Regions from separate parts of the Homo sapiens genome. Here region 2 is linked to region 1. A link means that fine-mapping ties the variant in region 1 to the expression of a gene that starts in the linked region. Tissue or cell type: thyroid. Region 1 holds a variant in brackets; the other region holds the start of a gene. All regions are shown on one strand. Distances are between the middles of the regions.

Region 1 (2,500 bases):
AAAAAATCTTAGTGTCTGGAATTCTAAGTTATCATGCTCATTTCAAAATTCTACTAAATTAAGCATAATGGCATGAAAGTAATATCAGCATACTTGCCTACATCTTCCAAATATATTATGATAAACATCTAATTTTTTTCAAAAAATATTTTAGTCATGTTTAGTGAGCCTGAAATATTGTGCATGCATGCAGAGTTAGAGCTAAAATAAGTGTTTTAGTTGGTTTAGTAAAATAGATCAAGTGTTCGTGGCAACTGACCACTAGGGGCCATTTGTATGGAAGAAGGTGGTTGGTGACCAGTGGGCATCTGGTTATAAGCAAAAGTGTCTTTTTCACACAAGACCTGACAATCAGAAGCCAGCCATGAAGCACTCCGGGCTTCACCAGCAGTTAACAACCCCCCGTGACAAAGAGCTGACAAGGGAAGTGGCTTAGGTCCCTGCTCTAGCCAGTTAATGAGGCTGTATTCCCACTAGCCCTAAACTCCTTCTCACCCAGCAGCAGCCTGAACAAAAGCAGAAAGGGGAGCAGCCACAAGAAAGCCTTTCCTTTGACTGAGGAGAGATTTCACACCCAAAGCCATCATTTAGGAAGGATACTCTCCAGCACCACTAAGCTGTGCTGTGCCCTGCCTAGGAGCCTCCAAGCTGCCACAGATCCCCCTACCCCTGGGGCTCAGGAGAGGGGGAGATTTGTACATCTCTAGCCATAGCACCAGCATGGCCAAGGGCAGGTTAGGTCCAGCTGGTGTCCTCCAGAGCAGGGCCTGGTGTGGCTGCCAGCCTCTGATGTGTTTGCAAAGGGAAGGAAGTCACAGAGTGCCACCTCAGTGGCCTGACTGGTGCATGGGAACAGGAAGGGCCCTCCTGAGCTGAGGACGTGGGGTTTCCAGTGTCCCCGGCCACCTCCCTCCAGCAGCCTCCTCAGTCCGGGCAGGGACCAGCATGCAGAGCCCTCTTACCCGCATGCTGTGGCGTTTGAAGACATTGTGCCGGTGGAGAGGTGGGGTGTGCAGTGAGTTAACGGGAGATGGATACTCCATAGGGCTGGTGAGCGTAGGAGAGCTGGCACACAGACCCTCAGGAACCTATTCAGGAAAAGCAAAGAAGCACAAGGCACGGGACAAAGCGAGAAGGTAGACAATTAGCTGCTACAAACACGAGCACAAAGAAACTATGCATGAGCACCACAGGGAATGGGGCTTGCTCTCCAGGAGTTAATAAAGAACAAAACGTGGGCCTTCCATTGCTCCGAGAGAGATGGTGGAGCAGTGCAGCCTCTCATTCATCCAACATTCCCCCAAGATGCTCTGCACACAGTGGGGTCCATGCTGGTTACGGACCCACTGAGACCAGGGCTCTTCCTTCAGGACTCTTCAAAAAATAGTTGTTTCAGTTGCATTACAGACTGACTGATGTGGTTAACACACCAATTTATACAGATATGTATGAATTGTTTTTTAAAAATTCAGATAGGCTCTTGCTCTGTTGCCCAGGCTGGGATGCAGTGGTA[T/C]GATCACAGCTCACTGCAGCCTTAAACTCTTGGCCTCAAGTAATCCTCTTGCCTCAGCCTCCCACATAGCTGGGACTACGGATGCATGCCACCATGCCTGCCTTGAATTTTTTTTAATTAAAAAATAAGTATATCACAATTTTATTGTATTACTATTTGTTTTTAGAGATGGGGTCTCACTATATTGCCCAGGCTGGTCTCAAACTCCTGAGCTCAATGAATCCTCCCATCTCACCCTCCTTAGTAGCTGGGACTACAGGTGTGTTCCACCCTACCTAACTCCCTGTTTTAAATATTGCACATGGGTATATCTCTTTTTTTTCAGAACGATTTTTCCATCTTCTGAATCAGGCTTTCTCTTCACGTGAAGAGGATTTATCTATTAGTCCTTAGATGGTCTTGTTTTGGCACTCAGGCATTTCCTTGAGAACAAATATAGGACCATGGGACACCACCTTTCTATAAAGGGCACCAACTAAATGGACATTATTTCTGGTGGTTGAGGGGATCAATTTTTGAGCAGTGGCTCTGAGCTGGGGGATGCAAGAGAAGAAATAAGAGGAGACTGGACTCCCTCTCTCCTAGAGGCAAGAGAGACACAGAACAGAGACATTCAGGGTCAGGGACGCACAGCCTGGGAAAGAGTCATGGTTGGGGATAATGGAGCTGGGAGAAAGCTCAGGTAAAACCCTGCTGTCTCTTCAATGGCCACCCAGGTTCTGGATGGGGCCTCTTTGGGGAGTCCCATGGAGCTACTCCATTTGTTGGGAAATATTCCCTGGGATTCCTTCTGGTAAGGAGGCCAGGGAGGCCTTAGATGTGGGGAGAGAGCAGCAGGCAGGCACACAAAGCAGCAGATGATGTAGACAGAGGGATGGGGCTTAAGGCAGGTCTTAGCTGAGCACAGCCTGGGAGAACTGCATTTTAATTCTTGTGATCTGAGTCTGCATTCTGTTCTGGGTGCCAAAGAAGAGTCAACCTAGGCCA
Region 2 (2,605 bases), 120 kb after region 1:
TGCACGCTCTAGGTTCCCAACAAGCCCAGCTACTTTCATTTTCCTGGATGCCGCCCGCTGCTTCCAGCCTCCTGCTGCTTTTAGCCTCCAGTCTCTGCACTTGCTGTTCTTTCCCCTCTTCTCTTGTGCTAATTTCTAGTCATCCTTCAGCTCTCAATTTGGAGTCACTTCTGCCAGGACGCCCTCCTGGCCATTGCTGACTGGCTCCCCCCACAGCCCTCTAGTGCAGGGTTGGATAGTACCCTGCACCTTCCCCTGGCAGCCCTCCCTCAACCACCCGGTATCCCACACTGCCCTGGTGAGCAGAGGCCATGCCACACTCACCTTGTCCCCACACCTTGCACCTGGCCGCAGGTGGGAAGCCAGTGAGTGCCTCCTGAATGGATGACTGCAGACTGTCCCACCAATGCTGGGGCTCTCCAGTGTGACTACTTCCTTCCTCCCTTCTGTCTTTAGTCACTTTTTCATCAGTGTCCTCCTCCCCCTCCCCCAGAGTGGTTGGGAAAGACAGGGCCTTCAGCAACAGCACTTGGGGTGAACAGAGAGCATCCCACGTAGAGGGGCCTCCCAGCACCCACCACCACATCACACCACGTGCACTGCCCCAGTGGGCTCAGACCCAGCCACAGCGCAGCTTCCGAGTTCCTCCTGGCTAAAGCCACCTCTAGGCACAACTTTCTGCTCTTGTCCTTCTGCTGGCTCCTTAAATGAGCGGACTTGGATTTTGCTCCCAGTTTGGGGTATAGGGAGATGCCAGTGTCATGTGGTCGAGGCTTAGGGCAGGTGGCAGGGCTTGCAGAACATCACCCATATGCCGCTCCACGCTCACCCACCCAAAGCGGTGCCCACGCGCAGCCTGACAGCAGGCAGAGGCAGCTCTGAACTTAACCCTTGAGTGGCACTCAGGAGGCGGCTTCTCAAGATACCAGAATGGCCAGTGTTAACTACACACACACACACACACACACACACACACACACATACACACGAGCTCCCCTGTGCCCCAGAACACCCTTGCTTTCCTCCAGCCAGGGCTTGATTCAGAAGATGACCTCTCAGGTGCAAGGAGTGGCTGCAGGAGAGTCAGGGTGGGCTGGGGGTGAGACTATAACCCCTGGGGCTGCGGAAGGGCCCGGGAGGGAGCGGGGAGCGGGGGCAGGAGCTGAAACCCCGTGGCTCCCTAACCTGAGCTTTAGAGGCAGCAGCCTGGCTGTGCCCTCACACCGTCACCCCTAGCCTCCCCCAGCCTCCCCTGTCTGAATATGTTGAGAGGACAAAGAGGGAGAAACACCCTATAGTGTCAAATTTACTCCAAAAATAGAACCCCTCTTCCCCGCGGAAGGCTGGCGAGCTCCGGGCATGTGCACAGCACCCACGGCTCCGATTTCCTGGGTCTGGCCGTTTCTCCGGGAACTCCCAGCTCAGGTGCCCAGGATCCCGGAATTGTCCCCAACCCCTGCCACCCGGTCAAGCCTCCAACTTCTGCCGGGCGCAGCGCTCAGCCCTGGCTCGCGGGAGGGACTCACCCAGGGAGGCGCGGACTCCAGCGACTACTCCTCGGGCACCGCCAGGTGAGCCGGGACGGCGGCAAGTACAGGTAAGTCGGCCGGGCAGGTAGGTGTGCAACGGCTCCGGAGGCTGTGGCTGAGTAAAAGGGCTGACAGGTTAGATTCTCCCTCCTCCTCTGAGTTGTTAACCACACCCCTGCTGCTCTCCTCCCCACTTCCTTAAAGGGTGGGGTGTGTTGTCTGTGTGTGCCGGCTCCAGCCTCTTACCATAAACTCTGAAATAGACGCTGCCACCAATTCCCTGAGCGCCGGGCAGACCTGGGGGGCGATCTCTGCCATTCCCCCGGCCGCAAATGGGATCCTCGGATGTTATGTGCCCCTTGTGAGCAGTTAACTCCCCAATTCCTAACACCCCTCCATCCTCTGTCCACTCCACCTGCAGCCTTTTGGAGGCCAAAAGGTGTGTGTGAGGTGGGTGGGGGCGCAGGGCGGGCGGAGGAAACCAACTTCTCAGGCTGGTTCTCCCAAGACCCCCCGCAGTGGGAGATGTTATATCTACATGGTACTGAGCACTTGTGTCCTAATCTCTCCATGTCCTAAAGTGGCCCCAGTCCCTTTGCAGGCATGAAAAATCATAAATACCACTAGGGATTTTGGCAGAACCGGTCCAGGTCCCTGAACACAGAAGACCAGGTCCCTGAGCTGTGACTAAGTAGGGTCTGAGGACAGCACAAGAATAGTTAGAGATGCTGGACAGCCCCTTCCAGGGGCCCCGCCCAGAGGCTGGTCCCCTCTTTCCTCAGGCCGGTGATATGTGAGCAGGCACTCAAGGGCACTTAGCAACACTTCTTCCCTATCCCTAGGAAAACTCCAGACTTGCTCCTGAGTAGGAGGAGGAAGTGACCTGGACTTGGCATAAAGTGAAAAAAGTGGAGTGTACGCAGCATCATCCTCATCCTACAATGTCCTCTCCAGAGCCCCTGTCCCAAGCTTCTTTATTCTGTGTCCTGTGCAGGATTGGAATCTGATTCCCAGAGCTGCCCTGTTGCACAATTCTAGAGGATGCTATTCACAATGTACTTTCTGAGAATGGCGCC

The links. PIP is the estimated chance that this variant, and not a neighbour inherited with it, causes the effect.
Region 2: it holds the start of PTK2B, and the variant in region 1 is fine-mapped to the expression of PTK2B in thyroid (GTEx, PIP 0.99).

Annotation. Positions count from the first base shown.
Region 1 is chr8:27,444,382-27,446,881 of GRCh38, reverse strand. PTK2B (protein tyrosine kinase 2 beta) reads right to left here. Exons shown (of 31, transcript NM_173176.3): 24 at 963-1,088. Among named protein-coding and RNA genes, the nearest start is that of MIR6842, 12 kb to the right of the region's middle. The variant T/C (reference allele first, on the strand shown) is at 1,514.
Region 2 is chr8:27,324,603-27,327,207 of GRCh38, reverse strand. PTK2B (protein tyrosine kinase 2 beta) reads right to left here and starts at 1,656. Exons shown (of 31, transcript NM_173176.3): 1 at 1,527-1,656. RefSeq lists enhancers at 512-581, 1-756, 1,362-1,411, 1,462-1,611.